Regions from separate parts of the Homo sapiens genome. Here all the other regions are reported to be linked to region 1. Evidence: microRNA targets listed by miRTarBase, many of them from high-throughput screens and not tested one by one. Region 1 holds a microRNA gene; each other region holds the end of a gene's coding sequence.

The links. The annotated mature microRNA hsa-miR-4731-5p reads UGCUGGGGGCCACAUGAGUGUG and lies in region 1 at 4,284-4,305, shown strand. An mRNA with a match to its seed (bases 2 to 7 or 8) in the 3' UTR can be bound and repressed. Matches are read on the target gene's strand: a 7mer-m8 pairs with bases 2 to 8, a 7mer-A1 pairs with bases 2 to 7 and ends in A, and an 8mer does both.
Region 2: the mRNA of THEM4 is a reported target of hsa-miR-4731-5p. Seed matches in the 3' UTR shown: 7mer-A1 at 1,810-1,816 and 7mer-A1 at 4,294-4,300.
Region 3: the mRNA of PTPN4 is a reported target of hsa-miR-4731-5p. The part of its 3' UTR that is shown has no 7-base or 8-base seed match.
Region 4: miRTarBase lists CENPO as a target of hsa-miR-4731-5p. Seed matches in the 3' UTR shown: 7mer-m8 at 3,453-3,459.
Region 5: the mRNA of GPRC5B is a reported target of hsa-miR-4731-5p. Seed matches in the 3' UTR shown: 8mer at 5,203-5,210 and 8mer at 3,501-3,508.

The regions. Positions count from the first base shown.
Region 1 is chr17:15,250,082-15,255,970 of GRCh38, reverse strand. MIR4731 (microRNA 4731) reads left to right here and starts at 4,275; the gene lies at 4,275-4,344. The region is part of intron 3 of PMP22 (peripheral myelin protein 22); the gene reads left to right.
Region 2 is chr1:151,870,566-151,876,454 of GRCh38, reverse strand. THEM4 (thioesterase superfamily member 4) reads left to right here. Exons shown (of 6, transcript NM_053055.5): 6 at 1,527-5,589. The coding sequence ends at 1,567. Among named protein-coding and RNA genes, the nearest start is that of THEM5, 20 kb to the right of the region's middle.
Region 3 is chr2:119,974,959-119,980,847 of GRCh38, reverse strand. PTPN4 (protein tyrosine phosphatase non-receptor type 4) reads right to left here. Exons shown (of 27, transcript NM_002830.4): 27 at 1-3,864. The coding sequence ends at 3,778. Among named protein-coding and RNA genes, the nearest start is that of EPB41L5, 35 kb to the left of the region's middle.
Region 4 is chr2:24,817,367-24,823,255 of GRCh38, forward strand. It overlaps CENPO (centromere protein O), which reads left to right. Exons shown (of 8, transcript NM_001322101.2): 7 at 304-475; 8 at 1,988-5,010. The coding sequence ends at 440. ADCY3 (adenylate cyclase 3) reads right to left here. Exons shown (of 22, transcript NM_004036.5): 18 at 5,843-5,889; 19 at 5,145-5,264; 20 at 4,151-4,274; 21 at 3,358-3,482; 22 at 1,803-2,748. The coding sequence ends at 2,566. Among named protein-coding and RNA genes, the nearest start is that of CENPO, 27 kb to the left of the region's middle. RefSeq lists enhancers at 4,600-5,143, 5,144-5,688.
Region 5 is chr16:19,854,883-19,860,771 of GRCh38, forward strand. GPRC5B (G protein-coupled receptor class C group 5 member B) reads right to left here. Exons shown (of 4, transcript NM_016235.3): 4 at 1,809-5,662. The coding sequence ends at 5,618. It overlaps IQCK (IQ motif containing K), which reads left to right. Exons shown (of 9, transcript NM_153208.3): 9 at 1,605-3,585. The coding sequence ends at 1,666. Among named protein-coding and RNA genes, the nearest start is that of GPRC5B, 27 kb to the right of the region's middle. RefSeq lists enhancers at 1-153, 3,304-4,503, 5,777-5,889.

The DNA of each region.
Region 1 (5,889 bases):
TCTGGAATGCATGGGCCTTGCCTTGATGGTCCCGAGCCTGGTCGAAGAGTCAGGAGATAGATATGGAAGGGTGAATCACTCCCTTGGAAGGCAGAGCAGGCCAGGTGCCCAAAGGGAGGCAGGCAGACAGCGTCTGAGTTCAGGGAGGAAGCGGATGGGAAATCTCTGGTGGGAGGTAGAATCTGATCCATCCTCCAAAGGATGGGCAGGATTTAAGTCAATACAGGCAACGGGGAGGAGAATATTCCCTGTGACCTAAGGTAAGGGTAGAACAAGGCAGGGGATGGGGTAGACTGGTTGGCTAGTGTTCTGGTTAGGATTAGGATTGATTGTGTATAAGAGAACATCTTCAAATGATAGGGGCTTAAGTAAGATCATTTATTTTTCTCTCTTTTCAAAGAAGTCTGGAAGTAGGTAGCCTGAGAGAGGTATGGAGGTTCCATGAAATTGTCAGAGATGCAGACACTTTCTAGCTCATTTCTTTGCCATCTCTTGGGTTTGGCTGTCATCTTCAGGAAACAAAAGGCTGCTAGAGCTCCAGCCATCTCATCCATGATTCAAGCAGTAGGGTGGAGAAAGGAGGTGGGGAAGAATGAATCTCCTTTTCTTTTAATGAAATGTGACATGGTCACACCTACACCTATTTACAAGAGAGGCTGAGAAATATAGTCATTCGGCCTTGGGGGAAGCATGGCTTTTCAAATCATAGAAACCTGGCAGCAAATACCTCTCTGTAAGCCTGGTGTGGAATACTTTCCTTGAGGGTTTGACCATCCCCTCCCATACCCAATCATACTCTTTTGCAATAGCTCAGTTGGGCCCTATGCAGTTCCATAAGTCCCAGTTATTTCAGCATTCTTCAAAGAGTCCATCTCTGCTGCATCCTGGGCTCTGTCAGCCACCCCACCATTCTCACATGGGCTCTTCTCAGAAACTTTAGGACCTGTTGAGGCTTCTCTCTCTCTATTTCTACCACCTCTCCAGGTATAAGTAAGTCTTATTATTATTATTGAGACAGAGTTTCACTCTTGTTGCCCAGGCTGGAGTTCAGTGGCGCCATCTTGGCTCACTGCAACCTCCGCTTCCCGGGTTCAAGCAATTCTCCTGCCTCAGCCTCCCGGGTAGCTGGGATTACAGGCATGCGCCACCACGCTTGGCTAATTTTTTGTATTTTTAGTAGAGACGGGCTTTCTCCATGTTGGTCAGGCTGGTCTCGAACTCCCGACCTCAGGTGATCCACCTGCCTCAGCCTCCCAAAGTGCTGAGATTACAAGCGTGAGCCACCATGCCTGGCCATCTTATTATTATTTAATGAGTCCAGACCTCTCTTCTGAATCCCAGACCTGTTTATCCAGCTGTCTCCTGGCCACTTCCCTTGGGATATCTAAGAGAGGCCCCCAAGTCACTAGGCCAGAGACAGTCCTTATCTTCCTCTGCCAATTCAACCCCTCTGTCACTTTCTAGTATTTTAGTGAATGCTGCTTCACCAGCCAGCAAGCCAAACATCTAGAGTCTGCCTTGACTTGACGCGTTTCCTTCTTTCTCTTCTCAGCATTGTCACGGGTCCCTCAGGCCACCCCATTGTTCCAATGCCTGTTGCCCACCTGTGGTCACGCTGCTTCCTCGTTTGTCAGAGGCGCCAGGGCAGCCTCCTAACTAGTTTGCCTGAACCCTTTCTTGCTCCTCTGTGACTCATTTTTCATATGGAATCCAGGCTGATATTTAAAAAAGCACAAACCTAATTATATCACTCCTCATTTTGAAACCTTTCAGAGGCCGTTCATTGGTCTTAATCTTCAGATGAAAATCTTTAACAAGGCCCATCGGAATCTACCTGAATGATCCACTCCTGCTTCTGTTAAGTCTCACCTCCCATCTCTCTTCCCCTCATCTTGGAATTTCAGCGTTTTCTCACGTCCTGAAATGTGAACTTCCCACTTCGGGAGTCTCTCCATTTCTCTTCTGATCTTTCATGCAGGACTATTTCTTGAACAACTCTCGTGTACCAGAGACTATTGCAGGTGCTAAGGTTACAAGAGTGAACAAGAGCTTATGTTTTACTGGACAAACCAGTCAGTAAACATGGAGAATTTGGGGGCAATGGTAAGAACTATATAAGACAGGGTAATGGGATAAAGAGGGATTGCAGTGGTGAAGGAAGGTCTCCTTGAGGAGTGGCCAGGAGCCAGCCATATGAACATCTCGGGGAGGTTCCATACAGAAGGACCGTCAAGTGCAAGATCGCTGGGGAGGGAAGGAGCTTGGCGTAGTTGAGGGACAGAGGGCAGGGCAGACTAGTGGGAACAGAGAGTGAGGGGTAAGTAGAATCACAGACCATCTCAAAGGTACCCCCCACCCCCACTAGGAAGGAGTTGGGTGCACATGGATGCATTTCTAATCTTTGTGATTTCCTTAGACCTGCTGTCTTCCACGGGTTTCTCAGTGGTCCATTTGATTCCAAGTTGGAGTGACAGTCCAGAAGCCTCTATAAGGCAGAATATATCAGAAATTGTACAAGGTAGAAATGCATCGGTATATTTTCAGTGATTATTTTGGGTGACGGGATTCTTATCACTTTGGCTGTTTTCTTTCTTTTGCTGCCTTACCTGTTTTCCTCATTGAGATCTTTTATTTTCACAATCAGAAAATAACTGTGAACATTTTATGTTAGAAAATTGGTTTTGAGTAGTAAGTAGGTTCCCTCTGCCTTGATTAAGAGAGTGGAGCCCTGGGGCATGGCACGCAGGGTCCATGGCGTCGCTTTGAATGAGGCCAGTTCCTGGAGCTTTAGTTTGCAAACTCATACAATCTGGAAGGCTCTGGTGAGGGGGAGGGGTGTGCCAAGCCTCCTCCCCAAGACCCTATGGGTGAGTTTAAAATCTACTGACCCAAAGGATTCAGGCAAAACATTTGCCCTGCTATTGAATGAACCAGTGCTTTTTGTTTTGAAGTCTCCAAGATCCAAATATCAAGTCCAAGTTCTCACAAGCATTCCCCTGCTTTTTGTTTAATTTGTGTGGACCTGACGTGTAGCAGAATGGGTCAGAATACTGGAATTAAGCCACAGGCGGCTTGGGAGCCCAAGAGCTAGAAGGGCACAGTCCTGGCTTGCCCTGGCCCCTGGCTGGTCTTCATCAGCTTCAGTGATGAGGCAGGACCCAGGCAGTTTGTCTTCAGTAAAATCTGTCTCTCAGGGCCTGTCCCTGCTCACAAAGTCCTCTCTTGTCTCAGAAGAAAAGGTAGTTGATAAACTTTTTCATGCTGAGGTGTTAGGCACAAAAAATGTGCCCCTTTTTGAATCACTTTTGTTTTTAAAAAGGAGGCCAGTGCTCAACACCAAAGCATGAAGGGAATTGTTGAGCTTTCCTGTAATCTGTCCCCAAACGTCCTTGGCCACCTCCATTGTCTAAGGGCAGTACCTGCAGCCCCTCATTTCCCAGTGACAACAGGTGGGTCTGCTCTGCCACAGTGTGTGGGCGGGACCAGCACCAGACGCTGAGAAGATGACCACTTACTACTCTTCTTTTCCATTTAAACAGCAGCAGCAGCAGCAGCAGCAGCAGCAGCAGCAGCAACAGCAAACTCATGACTATCAATAGGTTGTGTGAGGAATTAGATCAATGCTTTGGGTTGAAAATTAGAGAAACTAAATCTTGCCAGTCTCAGCAGCCCCCAACCTGAGCCCTTGGTGGTCTCCTATCATCGCTGTCTTCAAAACGATCCCAGACTTGTTTATCAATTTGGTGACACTGTCATTTTGGCAAGGACACCAGACAATTTCCTTGTCTGTGGCTCAGCTTTTGGCCAGATTTTAGAAAACACGGGAGACCTTCTGCATTTATGGGTTCATGTTTTACATTTTAAAATCTTCGTGGCTCCCTCAGCCAACCCATAATCTCTACCCAAGGAATGGCTCTGGATTTTACAGGCTCTTATGAGATGCTGAGACCCTGGTGGTACAAGGGAGGTACAGAGGACGGAATGTGTTGTCAACATGCCAGGATTTCAACCCTTAGGGTTTCTCTGATGCCAATACCCAGGAATTAGTATGAAATGTTTGTTTGAACCTGTGTCTGAACTGTATGACCTGGAATCTATAGTCTTTGCTTTAAAAAAACTTCAATTGTATCCCCAAGATTTCACCAGCACCAAGAAAACATCCCTTGCATTTCAGGAGCAGGGACTGGCCATGGTGCAGCCTGAGGTTGTGGATGTTGATCTTTGGTGCCCGAGAGAAGGCTGTCTGGGATGAAGCCTTCTGACTGTGGTCAGGTCCCTGCCAGTGCTGGGGGCCACATGAGTGTGCAGTCATCCACACACAAGTGGCCCCCAACACTGGCAGGGACCCGGAGTCATCTGGCCCATCCCTCCTTCCTATCCCATCGAGCCACAGACCCCTCTGCAATATGCCTACCACATGTTCATCCTACCACTGATGGGGAACTTATTACCTTCAAGAGAGCCTCTTTTGTTTTTGAAGAGCTAATAGTGAGATCCATTCATGTGTTCTTCAACTCTATTGAGCCTGTCCTATGTACTGGGCACTGTTCTAGAAATGGGGTGCACAGAGATGAACAAGAAAGAGCAGGTCCCTGCCATTGTGCAGCTCACAAGGAGTTGGAGGAAACAGGCAATACACAATACATGCATCACTATGGGTAGTGGAACATGCTCTGCAGGAAACAAATAGGGTGATCCAATGGAAAGTCATCACTGGAGGAATGAGCTGCTCAGGGAAGGCCTCTTCCTTCCATAGTGATGTGGTCTGAGATTTAGAAGACAGGGAAGGACCAGTTATAGGAAGAACCATGGGAAGAAAATTCTAGGAGGTAAAGGGAAGAACCAAGGCCCTGAGTTAGCTGAAGAAAGGAGGGTGGGGAATGCGGGAGAGAGGGATGGGAGCAGGATCGCTGGTGCCTCACAGGCTGTGGTACTGAGAAGGACAGTTGGGACATCATTGAAGGGTTTTAAGCAGAAGAGTGTCATGATTTGATTCATGTTTTGTAAGCTCATTCTGGCTGTTGAGAATGAATTCTGGGGAGAGGCAAGAGTGGAAACTGGGGACCAGTGAGGAGTTTGTGGTCATAGTCCAGACTGGACATGATGATGACACTGAGATGACAATGATGACAATGACAATGATGTTAAGAATACAAACAGCTCACGTAAGTGCCAGGCATTCTTTGAAAAGCAATGCATTTAATCCTCACAAGAACTCTAGGAGGTAGCTGGTGGCTTAGCTAGGGAGGGGAAGTAGAGAAGAAAACAGGTCTCATGACAGGGTTTGCTGATGGGTTAGATGTAGGGAGTTAGGGAAGAATGATTCTAGATGACTCTACGTTTTGGGCTTGAGCAACTGGTGTGTAACTGAATCTTGGACTGAGATGGGGAGACTGGAGGAGGAACAGAAGATTTGCGGGAAGGTGTAGAAATCAGGATTTATATTTTGACCATCAGAGAGGTCAGCAAATCACTTCAATTTAGAAGTCTTTGGCTTAGGGGAGAGGTCTGGGCTGGAAATTCAAAGTCAAGAGTCATTCCTCTATACCGAAGGGTATTCAATGTTGTGGTGCTGAATACAGTTACTTGGGGAGGAGTTGAGAGCAGAAGGCAGAAAAGGGGAACAGGGTTCAGAGCTAAGTCTTGGGCATGCCAGGGGTTAACGAGGGTACAGGAAGGAGAGGAGACTGGGGATGAACAGCCAGTGATGAGGGAGGAATGCCAGGAGATATTGTCACTTAAGAAATTACCTCGGCTGGGCGCGGTGGCTCACGCCTATAATCCCAGCACTTTGGGAGGCTGAGGCGGGCGGATTACAAGGTCAGGAGATTGAGACCATCCTGGCTAACACGGTGAAACCCTGTCTCTACTAAAAATACAAAACAAAAT
Region 2 (5,889 bases), not on the chromosome of region 1:
AAAAATTTACAAAGTGATATGCCCTTTGACCCACCTCCAGGACTTTATCTCACAGGTATAATAACTGCAAAATTATAATGTGTTAGATTGCTATCGGGTTCCAGTGATTGTGTCACTCATGCAACATTATTTGCAATAGCAAGAAAAATGGCAAAACGTAGCAAACATAGCTATCCATCAATAGGAGACTGGTTAAAGAACTACAGCTCACCTATGAACTATATTGTATGTGTGTGCCATTAAAAAATGGTGAAATATTGTGATACCATAAATAAGAAAAATATGTCTATATTTATGTGTGTGTAGACTGTCTCAGGAAAGTCACACACATGACCTGTTACTTCCCTGGAGTACTGAGGTTCATCCATGTTGTTGGCTGTGTTCACTTGTTTGTACCACTGTGTAATACTCCATATGTGACTGTCCCACAATGAATGTCTCTCTTCCAGTGACAGGCCTCTGACTATTACAAATGGGGCTGCTATAAACATTCTTGTTCATGTCTCCTGGTGGTGTGCATGGGCAAGAGCTTGGCATATACTTAGGAACAGAATTTCTGGGTGGTAGAGTATTGTGAGTATTCAGCTTTACAGAGGAATGCAAAATTGTTTTCTAAGCCTGTACCAAATTAAACTCCCACCAGCAATATATGAGATTCTTTAGATTCCCATCTTCTCTAGCAATTAGTGAAGTCAGACTTCATGATTTTTGCCAGTCAAATGACTATAAAATGACTTCTCGGTGTGATCTTGATTTGCATTTCTCTGATTACCTGTGTGGTTGAGTGTCTCTTCATATGTTTATTGACCATATTTTTTCCCATTCTGTGAAATTTTTGTTTGTTCAGCTTTTTTTCCATTTGTTCTCATTTTCTTACTGATTTATAGATGTTCTTTATATATTTTCTATTAGAACAATTTTTTGTTGGATATATAAGTTGCACATACCTCCTTACAGTGTGTAAGTTGTCTTTTATTTGCTTTAAGGTATCTTCTTTATGAACAGAAATTTTTAATGTCAATTTAGTTGCATTTATTACATTTTTCCCTTTATGGCTAATTTTTTTGTATCTTGTTTAAGAAATTTATTTTTCCTCTTAAGTATGAAGCATTTGCAGGAATGATGGATTTAAGGAGCAGGTGGAAGATAATAACTTAAATCCACAGTCAATTTAAGAACTCCATTCCAGGCTGTGGTTTGTACTTCCTGTCTCACTAAACCTTTCAATATCATAAAGGTGCCAGATGGCTCACTTGTAATTTTAGTTCTTTTCATTTCTAATGGAAGTAGTGAGGAACCATGAAATGGCCAAGTGGTGAGGACCTGGTTACCCAGGGAGAAGTAATACAGTATTGTGATAGTCAAAAGCTGATTCTTAATTTGGCTGAAAAATGAGAGTGGACAGATAGACTGAAGCTACAAATGTGAATCAAATCCTTCTTTTGTATATGTCTTTCTATTTAGAGTAGTCCATCAAATTGAAGTCAGTTGACATATAATCATCTGCTGTTATTTTGTTTGTTTAGGCTTATTTATAAAGCTGAATCCTGCTAAAAGTCTGACATAAAGAGCTGCTGGTGAACTCCATCTCATTCTCGCCCCTCCAGAAGAAGCAGTTGTCCCCCAAATACTCTGCTCCCTCACTGCTGAATCCCTGTAGGGAGAAGCCTGCCAACAGTGACCTTCCGAAACAGCCTTCTGAATACAAAGAGGATTCAGTTTCCATCTTCTCAACTTTTTAACACAGAAATACTTCCTGCGAGCATATCGACAACTCTCGGGCCAGGCGCTGTGGCTCACACCTATAATCCCAGCACTTTAGGAGGCCGAGGCAGGCGGATTGCCTGAGCTCAGGAGTTCAAGATCAGTCTGGGCAACACGATGAAACTCCGTCTCTACTAAAATACAAAAAATTATCCAGGCATGGTGGCGTACGCCTGTAGTCCCAGCTACTCAGGAGGCTGAGGCAGGAGAATTGCTTGAACCCAGGAGGAAGAGGTTGCAGTGAGCCAAGATCATGCCACATCACTCCAACCTGGGCAACAGAACAAGAACCCATCTCAAACAAACAAACAAACAAAAAAAAAAAACTCTTGTCTCCTTAGGATATGTTACCTGCTCCACTGCAGACTAGAGAAATAAATGTGTATTGAACCTTTTACTGCAAACTTGAAAATGCTAGAAAACCAAGCATGAAGAATAAATACATGGTGGGAAACACACAGGCATGTGCATATGCATATACATTGTAAGTTAGTAAGTTAGAAAGCTAGCTTTGTTGTATCTGAACACATGAATCTTTTTTGGTCAGTGTAGGAAGCACAGCCAGATCCTATAGGAATGAATACCTCAAATCTGTTGTCTGAGATTCTAGAGATTAAACCACTGTGCCATTTTTAACCCAGGCTGTACTGTTGTTTCTTACCAACAGCATAGGTTTTCATCACTGGAAGGAGCCTGTGTTCATTTCCTAGGGCTGCTGTAGCAAAGTAGTACAAACTGGATTGTTTAAACCAACAAAAACTCATTGTCTCTCAGTTCTGGAGGCCAGAAGTTCAAAATCAAGGTGTTGACCAAGGCCATTCTCCTGAAAGTGCTAGGGAAGGAGCTGTCCACGCCTCCCTCCTGGCTTCTGGGAGCCTCAGGTGTTCCTTGGCTTCTAGATGCATCATTCCAGTCCTCCATCTTCACATGGCATTCCCTCTGTGTGTCTCCACAGTGTCTTCCCTCTGTGCAGATCTATCTCTGTGTCCAAGTCTCCTCTTTTTATAAGGAAACCAGTCATAATGGACCCACCTGAATGACCTCATTTTAACTTGATTACCTCTGTAAAAAATGTATTTCCAAATAAAGTGACCTTATGAGGTATTGGAGATTAGGACCACAACATACCTTTTTTGGGAGGACACAATTCAACCTGTAAAAGAGCCTCAACAAAACTAAAAAATGAACGGAGAGTTGAAGGGGGCCAGCCCCTCCACACCTGTGGGTGTTTCTCATCAGGTGGGATGAGAGACTGAGAAAAGAAATAAGGCACAGAGACAAAGTATAAAGAAAGAACCCTGGGCCCAGGGGACCGGTGCTCAGCATACAGAGGACCCGCACCGGCCCCAGTCTCAGCTCTCTCAGTATTTATTGATTACTGTTTTCACTATCTCGGCAAGGGGAATGCAGCAGGAGAACAGGGTGATAGTGGGGAGAAGGTCAGCAGGAAAATCTGTGAGCAAAGGAATCTGTGTTACAAATAAGTTCAAGGGAAGGTACTATGCCCAGATGTGTACGTAGGCCAGATTTATGCTTCTCTCCACCCAAACATCTCAGTGTAGCAAAGAGTAACAGCAGCATTGCCGCCAGCGTATCTTGGCTCCAGCCACAGGGTGGTTTTCTCCTATCTCAGAATGGAACGAACATAGGATCGGGTTTTACACCAAGACATGCTGTTCCCAGGGGCATGCAGGAGACAGAGGCCTTCCTCATCTCAACCACAAGAGGCCTTCCTCTTTTACTAATCCCCCTCAGCACAGACCCTTTGCGGGTGTCGGGCTGGGGGATGGTCAGGTCTTTCCCTTCCCGGGAGGCCATATCTCAGGCTGTCTCAGTGGGGGGAAACCTTGGACAATACCCAGGCTTTCTTGGGCAGAGGTCCCTGCGGCTTTCCACAGTGCATTTTGCCCCTGGTTAATTGAGAATGGAGAATGGCGATGACTTTTACCAAGCATACTGCCTGTAAACATACTGTTAATGAGGCACGTCCTGCACAGTCCTAGATCCCTTAAACCTTGATTCCATACAGCACATGTTTCTGTAAGCACAGGGTTGGGGCTAAAGTTACAGATTAACAGCATCTCAAGGCAAAGCAATTTTCTTAGAACAGATCAAAATGGAATTTCTCATGTCTTCCTTTCTACATAGACACAGTAACAGTCTGATCTCTCTTTTCCCTACAGAGACTAATGTTCTGGAAAATATATTCTGCTTCCTAGTGCAGGCAATAGATTATTTGGGCTTCCATTTCTTTCCTTTCTTTCCCCATATTAGAAATTTAAGCTGAACCATATGAAATCACTATTTCGAAGAACAGAATGGTCAAATATTGACAATTTCCTATGGTTCAACCTAATAACTTAGGGACAGCCTTGTGGTACCCTACCCAGTCATCCTTCCACAGCCAAAAGATCAGCTGGAGCCCTCCATTGCCAGAGCTGACTGACCTGGGATGGCCAAGCCAGAGGAAGACCCACATCCTGGAAGCCCTGTCTCTAGTGCCCAACTCCAGTTCTCAAGTTGCAAGGGCCCAGCAGACATGGGGGCACTGCAGGGGTGAAGCTGGCAGTTCCTTCTCCCAGAAATTCTGAGAGAGCCTGGGAAAGTGCCCCAGGAGATGGCTGGGCTCACAGCTCTACAAGTTACAGGTCTGGCAATGGCCACCCTCTATTCCCAGTCTTCCAACAAATCCTGAAACTTAAGAGAGTGGACTCTTACAATAATTATATTTCACATGTTAAAAAATATGACTCCGAAGGAATAAGCCAGCGCTGCTCATTTAGCTAGTTTCACTTAACTAGTTGGGAGGAAGTTTAGACAATGAAGGTACTGTACTCTCATCGTTAGATTTCTCTGGCAGGCTTGCAGAACTGCTATGGCACACCAGACCTCCAGCCAAGTGAAAGAACCTAACTGAAAGAGTGCCAAATGACCAGGTTTTCTTCATGTTAAGTATGCCTGCCTCCCTTCGTATCCACTTTTTTCCCTTTACAGTTTCATTTCTTACACTGGTTTGCTCACATCCAGGTTAGATGCTGCACAAGATCAACTAAGGAAAAAGCTCAGTCACTGTTAACATAGGGTTCCCCATAGCCAGTGAGGGAAAAATGGCTTCCCTGCTTTGCAGCAGACTATTCCTAGCCTTCACCATGCCCTGGCACTCTTGCTTTCCTCAGGTTGTATTTTGACAAGTATGTAAGATAACAAAAGGTGGCAGAACAGGTAGAAAGAAGGAGAGAGATGCTATCAGAATTGCCAGCTCCACTCCATCACTGGCTTGCTGTGTGACCTAATGGAACTATTCCTCATTTCCTGTTTCCTTCTTTTTCCTTTCTTTTTTCTTTTTCTTTTTTTTTTTTTTTTTTCAAGACAGGGTCTGGCTCTGTCGCCTGGGCTGGAATGCAGAGACACAATCTCAGCTCAATGCAACCTCCACCTCCCAGGTTCAAGCGATTCTCCTGCCTCAGCCTCCCAAGTAGCTGGGACTATAGGCATACACCACCAAACCCAGCTAATTTTTGTATTGTTTGTAGAGACAGGGTTTTGCCATGTTGCCCAGTCTGGTCTCAAACTCCTGGGCTCAAGTGATCTGCCCACCTCAGCCTGCCAAAGTACTGGGATTACAGGCATGAGCCACCTTGCTCAACCTGTTTCCTTCTTTATACCAAGTGCTAACATTTTGAATGAATATTAGGAATTGATGCTGGTTAGTGCTAAAATATCTTTAAACTATCAGTGTAAACATAATTAGGCCGTGAGTTTTTGCTCTTACTCCCAGGTTTCTAAATGTCTAAGAAACAATAAAATGAGAGTCATGTACAGAAATATATTGTTGGAAGAATTTTTTCAAAAAGCAAAATAAGATTAAGTTTTTTCTCTAATGGGAAGATGGAATGAAATATATAAGTTAAGAAAAACCTTTTCTTCTGTATTAAGGAAGCTCATATCCTACATGTTCCTATGTTCCCTATCCCATTACCTTCTCAGGACGCTTAACCTCTTCTGGGGACTTATGAAGCCAAATTATTGTCTTACCTAATGGATGACCATCATGGGACCCTAGTCAAACATATTTTTCAGGACCAAGTATACAACATCCTCTGTGATGGAGACAATGAGGCAATC
Region 3 (5,889 bases), not on the chromosome of region 1:
CTGCAGTCTATAATGTTTTCATACTGCATGTGTTATCAGTCTAAATACTTTACAAAAGCTTATGTTCTGTCAGGCAGGCATGACTAGCAAACTGAGTGGGGGTCCTAATTAGAATCACTTCTTAAGCCTGCTTATTTTCTAACTTAAGTGACATCCTTTAAGGTTGTCATAGTTATTAAGTGAAAACATTGGCTGAGTATGCTTCTCTACTGGAAATAGACAAAAATTCACAAGAATTTATGATATTCACATAGGTTATAATTTATTGAAGTTCCAGTATAATATAGGAATACTAGATAGATAATTAGAAAGCAGATCATATAAGACCAGACTGCTAAATCAATAACCATTGCTGAACCCTATTTCCTAATGCCGATAAAAATGGGCTAAGTGAAGACTGGATAACATTTTTCAAGTTCCTTTCAGCTCTCAAGCTGCAGTACTTCTAGTGGAGATAGAAGACAGGAGACTTTTCCTTAAATACTCTAGACCTGATCAGACCCTGCCAGCAGATGATAACCCAGAAGTTAAAATAATCATTTTCCTCTGTGGGCATTAGCCTTTGTGAAATATACATATAAATAAACACACAAAAGTAGCTCTATGTGTGTGTACACATATTTGAAACCTTCCAGCAATTGTCTTAATGTCTTAACATACCTTTGCACAACTGAAGTCAGATTTCATGTAATAAATGTTCCCTTTACTCTTGATTAAAATCATCAACCACTCCCCTCTCACCTCTTTCTCCTAGCAGACTGTAGAAAGGAAATCATTTCTTAGGCTGTTTACTCTGCCTCTATTTTGAATGGATGCATTGGTTTAACAAATACTATCAATTTTCTGGTGAATGTAAAGTCTATTCCAAATACTCCTCATCATATTTACATGGTGCTGACACAAATCAGATGCTCAATAAAACACCTGAAATGAACAGGAAAAAACAATCCTAACTCAGAAAGGGAAGGTTTTCACAAACACTTCTTAGCATTTACAAAATCCACTTGATTAACCACTATTGATTTCCACTTGTCAGAATAAAAGTCAGCATTGCTTTCTTAAGGGTGTCAAGGTGGGAGGTAGGGGTGGCTGGAAGAGTGGGAGCGTAGCTTAGATACAAGACATTTGGCATTTTATCACACAATGTTACACTGATATGGACGGAGTCTAGAACTACATGGTGTATGAAAGCTAGGATTATTTCTAGAAACCTATTTAGATTGATATACAGGTTAAAAAGTTCTTAGATGTAATGGATAAAGTCTTATCTATTAGCATATTCATTTTAAGAAGTTGTAAAGGATAATTTAAATTTAAATAAGATCCCAATAAATATGGTTTTCAAAAAGGATCTTTTCTGCACATAAAAATGACGACAGTGGGTAGTTCCCAGATGAAAAATTCATATATGAGAAATTTAAATGTAATTCTAAACTTCTAATGATTGGCATTTAAAGACAGGCATTGATGATTTAAAAAGGCAGCAGTGCTCATTGCCAAGAAATTATTAAACTCACAAGTATAAACAAGGCCCTAAATTAAAGAACATGCCAACCATGACTTTTGTCTCTTTACATCTATACAATGATATCTTTTGGTCTATGGTTGTCATATTCTGTCCATACAGATAGAACAGACAAATTTTATTTTTAAATTCAGGTGAAAAACTGCCAAAACAGTCATTTAATGTGTAGACCCCGACATAATTTTACTTTCTCAGTTTTTAATTTATCATGTCATATAGCAGCCTAAATTATATTTGTCTGTTTATAGAACAGAATGACCAAATAAGATTATAAGTTACTTCACTATCTTATACTGTTTTGACTGTGAAGTCAGGAAATAGATTAAGAGAATTTCTCTTTGACATAAGTTTATGTTTACTTCTCTCTTTAAATAAACTTAAATATTTTAATATGATAATTTATTTGGTATCTTGGCTATTAATGTTTAGGAGCTTGATTTCCTGAAATTTATTATTATGAGTTTTGAATGTCTGAAATGACATCGTTTAGATTATACCAAAGATTTAAAATGTGTACTCTTCCCCTCATACTAAATGGCTTTCCAAAATATCTGCCATTTGACTCTAAACTTTATCAAGATCTTACAGAAATATTCAGAAACTGCTAGGAAATGAATCTTTTAAAACCCCAATCCACATAAAATAATTGTGTAAAATAACATTTGTATAGGTGAGCAAATTTTCACTTTTATCAAACTGGGCAATGTTAAGGTTCTATCTCTCTGTAGACTTAAAAACAAAAAAACCTGAAGAGGAAAATACGGGAATTCCCACATCCTTAATGGGAATCAGATCCTCCATTAGGCTGGACAGTCAAAAGTCTCCTTATTAACATGCTTATAACTTAATAAGTATATATAAAATGGAATAATTTAATTGTACACAAAAAAACAAGAAAATTCTCAATTTAGTTATTGAGTTATTACACTTAGAAATAAGTCAATAATGTTTCATTCTTCGTTTGAAGAATCCCAATCAATATATCAGTGTGAACAAAGCTTGATATTAACTGAAATGAGTGCTAAAGAATAATATTTTAGTTATGGACATGAATAAATCACAATTATTTGCTCTAACTTTAGCTTAGATTATCAATATGTTTAACATTAATCTGCATGTTAGATGTCTTCCTAAAGTTAGGGATGAAATAAATATGAAATTTGAAGCATAAAAGCATCTTTTAAAGTTGAGCTGCTAAACCGTAACCCCTCAGTCCCTCAAGTAAAGGAATGTGCAGATTTTGAACAATTCCATAGCAGCAGTGTGCACTCAGTAGAACACAAATTATCTTTGCTTCTTATAGCAAATCACGAGTACTGAGTAAGAAACAGAATTTCCTTACCCTTCTTTGACTGTATAACACTCAATATAGCTGTTTTTTAAAATGTGAACTTATTCAAAATGCATAAAAATATACGAATGTACAATATACATATATACCTCCTAGTGGGGTCAAATGAGTGCCTTTTCGTTAGACATACAAGGACGTCTCAAGGCACTTAAGGGGTTAAGACACAATGCATGCATTCCTTTACATCAAGTATGTGAAATCACATGATTTGGAATAAGCCAACCTTATGATAAATATAAGTTACATTATTAAATCCAAGAGAATTTGTAGATTCATATTTATATTTTCTATAAGATGCTGGTAAATGGACAATGTGCAGCATTTCCTGGGAACAGCAAATTCCATCTTTCTTCTTCTGAGCAGCAGGCAGGTCTCTACAGGGGGTGTGCAGGGAAAAATGTGCTGCATCCATAGGCAGTGTATTGGCTAATATTAAGAACGATATTGCTAAAATTTTAAAAATAAAATCTGGTAATCAGTATAGTAAGTACGCAAACCACTGCAAAAGACCAGAGCTGACTCCTGATGTTTACTTCTTTTTGCTTTCATGATACAGGTGTATAACAGAGATGATGAGAATTTTGAGCCTTGTTTGTGGCAATTCTACCAAAAGGGGATTGCATGGCACCACCACAAAATTTCATAAATTACCCTGAACATACTCAGTTATTTACTATTTGTTCGGAGCAAAGCATGAAACAGTCTTCAAATACATGAGTTATAGATTTTGAAAGAGTGACATTTTTTAAAACATAAAGTGCAACAGTGCTGAAGTTTTCAAAGTTTTTTTGAGTTCTTCATTTTTTTTTTGTAAAATGCCATTTCCTGCGAGCAGCATTATGGCACAGTGAACATAAGGGAAAGCAGTTTTCCAACACATATCCCAGATCTTTTTGCTTTCTTATTTATTTGTTGATGTTGTTAAGGGTTTAACAAAGCCTTCTTCATAAACTTTCAAAATAGCTTCACATACAAATCTGTATTGACTCTGAAAAATAAAATATAAAAAACAGAACTGATCAGAAAAGTCAGAAAACCGTCCCCTCTCCCCCCAAAAAAGACAAACATCTCACTTGGCTTGCTTACTTAAAAAATGCAAAACAAAACTGCATAAAGATACCATTTTTCACTAACAGTCTAGACTGGTTAAAAAATACAGTTTGGCAATATATTTTGTTGGCAAAACTCACTTATATGTTGCTGGTAGGGATGTTAAAATACTGCAGCCTCTATAAAGGGGAATTTGGCAGCATATAAGAAAATTAACCTAATTTACCTCTTCACCCAGCAATCCCACTTCTAAGAATCTATCCAAAAAATAAACCAGAAAAAGAAACTGAAAACACATATTCACAAACAAGGCTATTCATTGCCTAATTATTTATAACAGAAAAGGTGGAAACAATTTAATTGCCATCAACAGGGACCAGGTGACTACTGTACATTCTCAAAATGGAATACTAGCTAGTCGGGAAGAAAAGGGATAAAAGTCTACAAACTACTAGAGAATGATTCCAGGTTATTTTATTAAGTAAAAAAAGCAAGGTAGGTAAAGTACGTATAATATATTATATTACCTTTATAAAAGAAAGGGAAGAAAATACAGTATCTATCTTGATGTATGTTAAGAAAAAAAAAGCAATGGAAGAATAAATTATTTTAAAAATAGTTTCTTGGCCGGGTGCGGTGGCTCACGCCTGTAATCCCAGCACTTTGGGAGGCCAAGGTGGGTGGATCACGAGGTCAGGAGATCGAGACCATCCTGGCTAACACGGTGAAACCCCGTCTCTACTAAAAATACAAAAAAAATTAGCCGGGCGTGGTAGTGGGTGCCTGTAGTCCCAGCTACTCAGGAGGCTGAGGCAGGAGAATGGCGTGAACCTGGGAGGCGGAGCTTGCAGTGAGCCGAGATCGCGCCACTGTGCTCCAGCCTGGGCAACAGAACGAGACTCCGTCTCAAAAAAAAAAAAAATAAATAAATAAATAAAAATAAAATAAAATAAATAAAAATAGTTTCTTATAAAGGGATGGAGGGAAATGGGAGCAGGAGAGGGACAGAGACTAGACTAGACTTCATTAAATATACCTTCCTTTTTAGATTTATACTTTGGAATAATGTAAATATAGCATATAATTATAAAAATCTTAAAATCCCTAAGCATTGACAATATCATAAAACTAATCAATGTGTGTATCTAGTTGATGACAACCATATAGAGGAGAGCTATTTGAAGGGACATTTTTTTTTAGACGGAGTCTCACTCTGTCACCCAGGCTAGAGTTCAATGGCGCAATCTTGACTTACTGCAACCTCCTCCTCCCGGGTTCAAGAGAGTCTCCTGCCTCAGCCTCCGGAGTAGCTGGGATTACAGGCACCTGCCATCATGCCCGGCTAATTTTTGTACTTTCGCAGAGACAGGCTTTCACCATGTTGGCCAGACTGGTCTTGAACTCCTGACCTCAGGTGATCCCCACCTGCAATGGCCTCCTAAAGTGCTGAGATTACAGGCGTGAGCCACCGCACCCATCCCTGAAGGGACTTTAAAACAGTAATTTGGCTGGCCATGGTGGCTCATGCCTGTAATACCAGCACTCTCGTAGGCCAAGGTGGGAGCATCACTTGTGGCCAGGAATTCAAGACCAGCATGGGCAACACAGCAAGACCCTGTGTCTACAAAAAAAGAAAAAAAAATTGGGTGGGTGCTGTGGTGTGTGCCTGTAGTCCTAAGATACTTGGGAGGTGGAGATGGGAGGAACATTTGAGCCAAGGAGGTTGAGGCTGCGATGAGTGGTGATCACACTACTGCAAACCAGCCTGGCAACAGAGCAAGACTCTGTCTCAAAAATACTGCAAATAAACAAACAAACAAACAAACACCTCAGTAATTTGACTGCATACTGTGGGAGAATATACTCAAAGGGCAAAAAGAGCTGTGAAAAAAAGGAAAACTCTTTTCATTAGCCATACTGTTTATAGTGGTAGTGTTGTTATTCTGAAACAGTTGTGTAATGT
Region 4 (5,889 bases), not on the chromosome of region 1:
GATTTCACACCATCGGTCTTTGATTTCTCTGCGCAGTTAGATTCCAGTCCCCAGTCTCTAGATTGCATTGGTCCAGTAAGGGGCAGCCTTAGTCCAGACCAAAAAAAAAAGCTGTATGGGTCCAGTGGGTCCAGAATATCAGTGATCCAGGTTCCGATTCCCCCAGCTGCACTGAGTGAGATTGAATGTCAGTGATCCAGGCTCCGATTCCCCCAGCTGCACTGAATGAGATTGAATATCAGTGATCCAGGCTCCGATTCCCCCAGCTGCACTGAATGAGATTGATGGAATCTTTCTTTTTAGGAGTGGAAGTATTATCCACTTCATGGGAGGAGCAACGAGCATCTCATGAAACTCTGTTCTGTACGAAGCCCTTGCATCAAGTGTTTGCCTCATTTACAAGAAAAGGAGAAAAGTTGGATATGAGTCTGGTCTCCTAATAGATTGTTTTCACTGCACTGGGAGCACATCAGAGGTAAGTAACCAGTACTGAAGACAGTACCAGGTGGGTAGTACTGTCTGATGAAGGGTACATCACCCTTCTGATGAAAACAGACACCTACCTGTTCATCTGGATGGAAGAGCAGGTTTGAGTATAGACACTGGCATTTTTGAACAATTCCCATGATCACCTGGTCCCTTCTTAAAATGCTCAAGATGTTTTTTAAAGGTATTAGTTGATCATACATTTTAGTTGAAAATCATTTGTGGGGCAATAAAAGCCATTTTTTGAAAAAGGTGTATCACTCAAGAAGTACTTATGGAAAAATATCAAATTATTGAGGGCATTAACTCTGGGAAAGACCAGGCAATTAAGTTGTCACAGTAACTGCTACTAATTTAATGCCAGGAATAGAGATGCCAAAAATCCTAAAATTTTCAGAAAGGGCTCTCACAGAAATGTAGCACTCCACTCAAACTGCAATAGCTTGATTCTGTTGAGAAACACTGATCTAAATAAATGGAAAAATAACCCACATTCACTAATGAAGATAATAAGGAAGACCCAATATTTTTTTTTTTTTAAAAGGAAAGTATTTTTAGCTTTTATGAAAGCTTTAAGTAATTTTTCCTCATTTTCCTGTTTGAAACTTTTGAAAAGGAAGTTCTTCAGTGTTTGTTTGGTTAGGCGCAGTGTATTCTAGGCCACTGCTTTATAAATATGGTGTGAGAAAGCAGTAGGATAAAATAATCAGAGTTCAGTGTGTCTCATATTTTGTTTCCTAAAAGTTTAGTAGAGCTGTGAATGTACTAGGAAGTCCCCTCTGAAAAAGCACAGTTAGTTAGTTAGAAATCTGCCCATTAACTCAGGGGGACTCAGGCGCCCCCCGGGTCTTCCCTCTCCTGCAGGCTCTCCGGTTAGTGTCCTGATTTGCCGTAACCACGGGCCTCTGACCTGCTGGCACCTCTGGTTCCTTGGCGTGTGGGTCACTCACAGATATGAAAACCTGTGTCTGGCTGACCAGGTTCTCCTGTAGCCCTCCCTTGCCCAGGCACAGATAGGAGTCATGACTGGCCCAAGGCCACGTTCAGACTTAACCCTGCAATGGCCACGAAGTAACCTCCGTGTGGGAGAGCTCCAGGAACAGTGCAGGGGATTAAAGCCAGCTTGGAGTACCCTTTAGAAGAAAGTTTAAGAATAAAAGAGACAGGGCCAGGCAGCAGGCGTTCCGGGGTACAGTGAGCTATGATGAGACCTTCAAGCTCTTGCCTTCCAGGCCTGTGGTGGGGACCAGTGGCATGAGTCAGCAAAGTACCAGCACTCCTCAGATAAGTGATATTAACAGAATTTCCACAATCACTTTCAAGTTGAATAAAGCTTTTAATAAAACAGTCTTGTTCTTTATCAATACCTGTAAATTCTCTTAAAGCAGTAGCAAAGGCGACTGTAGCAAGAGCTCAAAAGGCAAGGCAATATCGGAAAGTGTATTTAACAGAAGATTAAAAATATAAATGTAGAAGATCTGTTTATATATTTTTCTTTCAGAAATAAATCCCCCCTCCCCTGCCAGGTGAAAGGAAATATTGCACTTTCTGTTCTCATGACTAAGGGGACAGGAGTTCCAGAAGAACCTTTCAAGATGATCAGGAACACCAGGACGAGGGCCGTCTCACCTCACTCGGACCACATGGAGACCTCCCTTCAAAATGGGAGCCATGTCCTGCCCCACCAAGCCCTGTCTGAAGTGGAGCTTCCCCGCCTGTGCTCCCTCCACAGTCCCGGAAAGCCCAGCGGCAAAGGCAGCTTTGTCCCAGCTCTGCCACCCTCCTGCTCACAGTGGTCAGGGCCCCTCAGGGGCAAGGACGGCAGGGATTGGAACGAGGGCTCTGGAAGGACTGTTCAGCCCTATGCCTAAGACCCCTATGCTGGGGACACTACAGGCACACACAGGAATAGCAGGGCCACCCTCAGAGCTCACACATCCACGAACAAATGAAGGCTGAGGAGGTTTCTAAACCTAAAGTCCATGAGTGTGCACTTCAATCCAGGAAGGTCGGGACTTCCTTCAGTTTCAAAAAATAAATTCTCCCTTCCGGTTTGGACTGTTGCAGGCTCGAGGCCATTCAGGAGTTGTCCACCACCTGGTGGGGCAGTGTGACAGAGGGGCCATTGGGGAAGGTGGCTAGCTTATCCCGCCCCTTCAAGAAGAAGGTCAGCAGCTCCCCCTTCCCCTTCACAAAGATGGGGCCTCGCCTCACAAAGCGGAAGCCGTACTCTCGGAGGATGACTTGGGTTTCTTCTACCACCTGGAGAGGGAGGGGGAGCAAGAACGTGGCGTTACGGGGGGAGCCTAGACTGAGGGCGGGTGGGGGCTTTGGGTGGTTGGAGCCGAGCACTGATCCATGGGTCCCAAGCAGTACGGGACACTCCCCAAACCTCCCAGGGCCAAGCCCTTCCACCCGTGGCGAGCAGCGGGTGGGAAGGAGAACCCTGGAGTGACTGGCTGGGGGCCTCCTCTCATCCAGAGACTTCTCTCCTAGGATGGCCATGGTCACCTGGGTGGCAGCACTGTTACCTGGAAACTGCCACTGCCTGCTCTTCTGTCCCTTTGCCCCTTTCGTGGAGCTTTTCTGCCAGACGCCACTGAGACAGATCACAAGGTATTAGAAGGTTCATACCCAAAGGTAGGCCATATGCATCTAGAACTTCAGCCCAGATTTTGTGGATGGGTGGAAGTGTTTCTTCCTGTGCTGAGGCTAGCTATTGCAGAGATTCTTTTCCACTTGCCCCACGTCTCTGCCTCTGGACTTACTGTTCAGGGCCAGGGTGGGAGGCAGGGGCACGTGGGAAAGCACTGTTCCGGTTTTGTTCTCATGCCGAGTCTGAGCACGTGCCAGCTGTGCCACTGGACATACCTGAATGTTGCCCATGACCCCCGTGGACTCCATCCTGCTGGCTACATTGACTGTATTGCCCCAGATGTCGTAGTGTGGTTTCCGGGCTCCGATGACCCCAGCCAGAACCCCGCCTTTGTTCATGCCTAGGGTAGAGGCATAAAGTTCAGCACAGCCACAGGCCACACCTTGTTATGGGCCTCAGAAGCCATCTCCTCTCCAGACCTGTACCACAAAGCTCCTAATGTAACACATCATTGTCCTCATTCAACTTGGCTGTATGCTATTGGAGGGTGGAAATCACATCTCCTGTTTATCCGTGTGCTTGTTAGGTGTCAGCCGCCACCCCCCCCCCATATGCAGATTTACTCGGCATGGTAGTGGCCAGCTTCTAACACAGCTGGTATTTCAAGTCTCCTGGGACCTCACTCAGGAATGATACCCCCTCAGTAGAAGCAGCAGGTGATCTTAACTCCTTTCAAAGAGCAGGCCTGTCTGGGAAGCCATGTCCTCAGCAGGCACAGCAACCCCTCTGGAAATGGATCACAAACTCACTTCTCAGCCAGGCAGGCCAAGCTTCTATTGTAACAGTAGGCACAGTATAGTCGGATCATCACATCAGCTGGGTTTTTGGTTTAGTCATCTAGAGTCGTCTGGACTAAAGGTCTTTCAGGTCTCCTTGCCCTGTGAGTGCGTGAACCTCCCCACCCGAATTGCCTCAGTTGTCCTGAGCCTCATGTCTCTCCTGGTGGTGGGCCAGGCCCCTGCATGGGAAGGGAGCCTGCTGCGGGGCAGGCCAGCTGGGGGTGCTCACCTATGCGCAGCATGAAGTTATTGAAGGACTGGTTGTTGATGTTGGTGAGCGTATCCTTCATGGCCAGCGCGAAGTCGGCCAGGTCAGCCAGGTGCTGCCAGCGCTCTCTCTCGGACTTGTCTTCCTGTGCCAGGGGACCGTGGAGAAAGTGTCAGGGGCCGCTCACTGCAGCAGCCTGCTCTGCTGCCTTCCCTGGCAGTGTTCTGGGGGTGGATTCCCTACACCTAGATGTTCAAGGCCTTACTTTTCCTCCCACAAAGGAGTCGCAGCCACGCTAGCTCTGACTTGCCACTGTGACAAAGTTCACGTAGCAGGTCTAGGCAAAGACTGGGCAATTGAGCAGAGGAGACGGACCTGTGAGTCTGACCACGAGGCGGACCCCTTCACCTTGGCTGGGCCTGGTCCTGGTCCTTAGGTTTTGTCAGGTTGTCCTTGTTTGGATCCCTCAACTAGGTGATAAGCACTGGAGGGGGATGACCCGCCTTGGACGTGTTTCTTTAACCTCATCCATATAATAGGGCCGTGGGATGGTTGTAGAGGTAAAGCAGGATGATGGTGTTTTAAGACCAGAGCTTGGGACCAGGGCTCCTACACCTAATTTTCTCTCCTGGTAGCTGAACAAAGGTCTAAATTAGCTTAACAAAAGAACAGGCTGCCGTCAGCCAGAGTTCTGAAGGCCATGCTTTCAGTTTCCCTTGTTGACAATTGCTCTCCAGTTCCTATGAAAGCACAGAGCCTTAGGGGGCCTGGCCACAGAACACAACCATCTTAGGCCTGAGCTGTGAACAGCAGGGGGTTGTGTGTCTGTTCTGTTTCTCTGCTTGCCGAACTTTCTCAATAAACCCTATTTCTTATTTATATTTACGTGGTGCTGGTGGTGTGTGTCTGGGACCACTTTGCACAGCAGTTCTTATTTCCCCCATGCTAGGTCTGGGCTGCCAATCTCTTGCCTTGGGGGCAGAGCCTCATCTCTCTGGCTACTGGGGTTAGCTACCTTGTTGGAGCTGGCAAAGCCATTGGTGTTGACATCGGGGGTGACTCCTGAAGCCGCCATATACGTGCTGCCAATGGTTTTGATCTTGGTGATCACCCGGAACTTGGGATTGTCCAGGAGCTGAGGCCAGGATTCAGGAAAGAATTGTCAGCAGTCAAGGGAGAGGAATGACCCAACCCAGTGACAGATGTACCTGTTTACAAGGACCCCACTAAACCCAAGAGACACTTTCCTATCAAAGTTGTTACTTAGTCTACCGCTTATCTGCCACATGATCCTGGGAGAACTTCCTAACTTTCTGGGCCTGTTTCCACAACCTCAACACTGACATAAAATCGGCAGTCTCCTAGGGGGGCTCCGCGCGTGTGTAAAAGCATTCTCCCTGGTATACAGGTCACCCAGTCAATGCTGACCGGCTCTGAATTTGAGGAGACAGTCCCAGGACAGAGAGGTCTCGAGATGTTGCTTGGCCAGTCCTTATCCTTATCCTGTGACCCTGTGGGTGATTTCCCGGGCTCCCACCTCACCTCCCCTTCCCCAGCCCAGCAGTTCCAGGTGGCTGCAGAAGTCCATGTATTGCGGAAGGGGCTTATCTGGGAAAATGAAGCCAGTTTCTCTGGCCTCTGCAGCCTATTGTAGGATGTGATGTGGAATGGGCCGGCTTCATGGCCAGAGTGCAGGGTGGGATGGGCACTCACAGAGTCAAAATCTGAGATGATTTCATTGAGGAAACGCAGACACTCAA
Region 5 (5,889 bases), not on the chromosome of region 1:
CTGTGGTTGCCCATAGAGCTTCCATATAAATGGAATAAAAAAGGTATATACCTTGAAAAAATGTTTTAAAATGTCCTGTGACCACAGGCTCCAAGTATTAAAAATATTTTTTTCTGATTTGTGTTGCTAATACAATGATTAGTAGTACGCAAAACCAAATAAATACATGATACAATTTGATAGTTGTCAAACATAGAAAATAAGGAGACTCTGAGGGCCCTCATTTTGAACTGCCTTCTTGTTTGGCACCTGGGGAGTCTTTACACACTGGGCCAGGAATGACAGGAGGGTGGGAAGCTGATGATCTGGAAATTGATTTCCTTTGAATGAACCATGACCAAGAACCCTTGCCCTCAGTTTGAAGACTGCAGGGCTGGTCTGTGTTGCTGAAGGCCCTCATCCCACCTCCATCAGAAAATAACCACAGGGCCAGGCGCAGTGGCTCACACCTGTAACCCCAGCACTTTGGGAGGCTGAGGCGGGTGGATCACTTGAGGCTGGGAGTTCGAGACCAGCCTGGGCAACATTGGGAAACCCATCTCTACTAAAAATACAAAAAGTAGCAGGGCGTGGTGGTGCACGCCTGTAGCTACTTGGGATGCTGAGGCAGGAGAATCGCTTGAACCTGCGAGGCGGAGGTTGCAGTGTGCCGAGATCTTGCCACTGCACTCCAGCCTGGACAAGAGAGACTCTGTCCCCAAAAAAACAAAAAAGTGCATTTCATGGGATGGTGTACATACCCACCTCTTTGCCGCATCTGGCTGGTGCATGCCCTTAGTTGCTGGGAGGTCAGGACGAGGGCAGGTTCACTTGAAACCTCAGCCCTACATAGTAACAAGCTCAAACACCCTTTTTACCAGAACAATGCTCTCCACAAATCATCAGAACCTGTGGCCTGGCTCAAACCACCTTTCAAGACATTCACATATGGGCAAGCAGCACTTGGACACTCCAGACAAAGATATATTAAAAGAGAGGGTCTTTCCAAAAGGATCCCTACTGCACCCACCAAGGGACTGGGTTTCCATATTTAATTGGGGAGAGGCTTTTATCTGTTGGGATTAATTCCCCTTACACACAGAGCCATACCCTGTATGGAGCTAACTTTCCTGTTTGGCAGACACAGGAAATCACCGAGATCAGGTTCTTGGTCCAGACCATGACATAAGAGAAAAGATTTTCTTCAGACCTTTGCATTGCCCCCAGTGATACCCTGAGTTTTCCATTTTGGGTGGCTGGAGAACAGGGTGTGTGGTGACAGATGGGGTTGAGCGGAGAGCCTGGAATCTGTCATCGTCTTTAGTAAAATTGCCTTCCTTCAGTACCCTGACCGGCAAAGCACACTTCTGACCTCTTTCTGAACTGAATTAAGAATGGCCATGAACAGTCCGGGAAGTGGTTTTGAACTTTCAGGTGCTGTCCTTAGAGCACAATGGGCCTGTGTTCTTCCCCGTGGATCCATGGGGCCGGAACCATGAATAGCAGGCGCACAGTGGGTTTTGGTGCAACTGACCTTGTCCACACATCAGAGTTTCCGGTTTCCCAATGACAAGCCTGTCTACGTATGTAAATTGATCCTGACTTTCCCTTTCTTTTCTTTGCAGTGAAATGCAAAATGGAGGACGATGCAGTACCTGCAGCCAAGATGAAAATTCCATCATCTTAACCATAGCTAAGACGTATCTTTGCCCATTCGAGCACAAGTTACCTTGTGCAAGGAAAATGTCCAAATGATGCTCTCTCTCTTGTGATTTCTTTAACAAGACTTGGAACATGTGCAAATGGAATCTTTTCTGTACAAGATAGGATTCATTGCAAACAAGCTTTAATGCAAATAGTTTAGAAAAGAAAGGACCAGTCTTCACTTTCTGCATTATCCCCACATTTTATTCATTCATCCAGATTACTTCTTCAGTGCCTCAGGAGTATTCTTCTACACCAGCTGCTGTTAAAATGTACAATGAACTCTAGTCCCAAGGAATACAGAAGTGCTCTTATTACCAGTTTTCCCACTTGTGGCCGCCTTTGCAAAGATCCATATTCTAATTTAAGTCCCCAACCTCTGAATTTGGTTTTAAGTTTACCTAGTGACTGACTACTCTCTTTATAAAAAAGACCTTATACTTAATGATCATTTCCAAAGGAGACCACTCCTTAACTTTTACTGCAAACCCAACAAGATGAGACACTTAAACCCAGACAGATGTAACAAAGGATTTTTGTTGTCTAAGTCCCAAAGTATTATATAGAAAGTTCCTGCTTTTATGGGTAAACTTATTACCTTAATATGTTCTGTGGTTTGCTGTTAACCAAGATTCTCCCATTTAAAATGCCACAGACCGACCCTCAAGGCAGATCCGAAAGCCTAGTAGTTAGTTGCACTGGGTTGTTTTGACAAGCTACCACACGTCTTAAGTAAATAGTAAAGCCTTTATTTTTGTGTTAAGAACAGCATTTTGAAAATAAAACCTATCTGCCCATGGTTTACAGCCTTTTAAATTTGTAATATTTATATAGTCGTTTATGGTACATATTGATTGTCTTGAAATTTCTTTAACTTCTTTTTTATAAGTATGCAACAGTCAGCCGGGGGAAGATAAAGGTACATTATAAAACACACATTAATGCATTTAATAAATATATATTATCTATCAAAAGTGAGCCTTAGCTCTTCATCAGTTAATAAAAAGCACCTGCTGAGAACTCCTGTAAGCTGGTATCATCATTGCATCATTGGATTATAAAAGCCACAATGCTCCCTTTCAACTTGGGGTTTGGCCTGAGGCGTTCAACTCAGCCTTGGCCAACCGAGACCACCACCCGAGTTCACCCTTGTTCAGTGGGTCCTGACGGCATCTGGGCTAAAAAAAAAAAAAAAAAAAAGCACTGGGCGCCCAGCTTCCAACAACCAGATCTTCAACTCTGGAATCCCTGGAGATGCACAGAACTTCCCAGTTTGTAAGCTGTCAGAGCTGACTCCCTTCTCTTCCCACCCTCCACCTCCAGTGGGGAGAAATCCAGGCTAGAATGACAATTTTCTATTAAAAGGGGGGACAAGAGTGGCTGTTATAGACCCAAAGCGATTTTAATAACCAGACACGGAACAATTTGTGCTTACAATGAGAGATTTTGATCACAGATGCTCTCCTCCCGGGTCGTTTTCCCCAAACGAGTCTTGTTTACACACGCAGATCTTAAACAGAGGTGCCATTTAATTTTGTCTTTAAACCTTGCTCCACGGGGGGCAGCTGGCTGCTACAGTCTCTTGGCAAAGATGTCTCTTGATACTTTTCAGGTGTAGTCATTAGAAAAAGAACAGCTCTCTCCCTTCTCCTCTCACTCCCGCCTCCGCCCCCATTATGAAGGCGTTCAGCCCACTCTCAACCTTAAAAGCCAAAATAAAACAAAACCCTAAGTGCGATAACATATCAGATTTAAAAGGGGGGAAAAAGGTCTCATTAAATGAGGCTTCCCATGGCTCAAAGATGGCTCTGTTCTTATGCTGGGGAAGCACGACTTTCCATGGCAGCCATTTGTGCTGTGCTCACCTTATATGCTTGGACAATAAAGAACTTAGAAAACGAACGTGTGAATTGCTCCATCGTGTGAATGGTATCAGAAAGCTCCAAAGGACTCCAGAGAGCGGGGGTGAGTAACCATTTCCTGGCACGAGAATGTGTAATGCTGTCGTTTTTTCACCGGACAGGACCGAGGTGTTTGAAGATTTCTTTCTTTTCAGAATACCGGGTCCGCATGCAACCGCCCCCACCCCCACCCCAGGTCCTAGCTTCATTCCCTCCCACCCCTCCCCAGGACTCTTACGTTTTCTGTCCACGCAATGACTGGAACGGGATTCTCTAGAAGCAAGCACATGCTCTGGGCAGAGGCGGGGTGCTTCCGGGGAGGTCAGGTGGGGGTGGCATTCTGGGGCCATGCGTTTTCTTCCCCATGCGTGGTAACACAAGGAAATGTACTAACTGTTAAGGAAAACTCGAAGGCGGGTCACACAGGGAGGGCCAGATTGGCCTTACTTTCCCCAGTGCTTTGCAAGGATGGGGTGGGGAGGGGAGACAGCAGAGACTAGGGCCTTGAGAAATATCAAAAGGTTTATTGAAACATACTCAGCTCAGACGTACTGGCTTATGAAGCGGTCAGTCCTCCCCCGGCCCCCAAACACTAACCTTTTTCATTTTTCTTTAAAGGTTAAAGGCTTATGGGTAGTTTTATAGAAAAAGCAATGTAGTGATTAGAGTATCTGCAGAAGGACCCACCCTCATTTATACATTCCATGCCGTCAGGTTAAAACTCTGCTTTGAATCGATGCTAGAGGTTATGCTGGCCAAACAGTGCAGAGAACATGGGGGCTTTGAATGGCCGAGATGTTCGAAATGCTAAATAACAAAGGAATGACTTGCTCAGGACAGATGGAAACCATGACAGAAACAATGGGCTTGGAAAAGGGCTGTTTTCATGGAACCTGCAGAAAAACCAAAACAAAATATCCCCCACACCCTCCAAAAGCAACAAGAAACCCTCATGTGATCCATTCCATCCAGGAATTTTCACCATAGCAACGGAAAGGACCCGAGGTGTCACTGCTTGTGAGGCAGCGAGAGGTCATCTCTGCATCCTAGTGGGAACCCCTGAAGCCCTGCTAGGTGACATCATCGCGGAAAACCTGCCGTGGTGCCTGCCTTCCAACCTGCCTCCCGGAGGGGCTTTCAGCTGGAGACCCCATTGGAGCTCTTGAAATGAATAAGGGAATAAAATTGGGAGAGGATTTGGAGATACACCCGTAAGTGTAGGAACAGGGCGAGATGATCAAGGGAAGAAGGGACTGCTGCCCCAAGCCAGAATATTTCTATGGCTCTACAAGGGAAGGGGCGGGGCCTGTGTTCTCACCATAGACACTAGAGCAAGAGCCCCATAGAAGGAACAGTGGTTGATCACTTTCCAAATGTGATGGTCACTTCATCACCCAGAGGGCCTCTTCTTTGGCACATGCCAGGGTCCCTCCACCTCTACTGGCTATAAAGCTCACCCCACGATTCAGTTGGGCCTCACCTTGGAATCCCACCCACAACCTCCTTAACTCTCCTGACCCCCCTGAAATGTGCAAACCACCAGGCAAGCCGGTGGCAAAGTCCCCATTTGTCCTCAACGCAACGGTCATCTCCAAGAGGCTACCTGGGGTCCAGCACTTGCTGGGGAGAGGTGATAAGAGTGGGAGCCCCCCACCTCCAACCAACACCAGTCTGGCCCACCAGCTGTGAATTTGGTTCTGTTCTACCCCCAGAGGATGAAACAGTCTTCCCAGCCACATTTTCCAGTGAGCCTAATACTATTTGCAATTAGCTTTGCTTTAGTTTGCGGGGATTGAGGTTGGTCTGGTATTACGTGTCTGTGTGTGTGGCAGGGGAGGGGCGGGCAGTCGGTGTTAGCTTTTCAGTTCGTCAGTGTTCACATTTACACGAAATCCCCTTGGCTAGGATTTCCAAATTTCCTGGCTGTGAGGCGGCCTGGTTCGGCAACTGTTACCGATTTCTCCCTCAAGAAAGACACAGCCAGGGAGGCAAATCGGTAAGAGAAATTCTGATTCTCTGGAACTTAAAGTCTTTCACCAAAGGTGTCTTCCTGTGTGACTTGGCGGAGCAGTTGGGATCTGGAATAACACATAAGGATAACACACTGAGAACTCTGTGCTTTGCAAAGTCAACACTAGAAACCGATGCGTAAACAACGCGGCAAAAATAAGTTACCTTGCTTTTACCTAGATGGGTCGAATAATTCCCAGGAGAGGCAGCAATGACTGTGAGTCATGCTGCTGTGGTTCTTGGGAAGCCCAGCTCCCTTTTCTATAACCATCCACCCGTAAGGAATGTAAGTTCA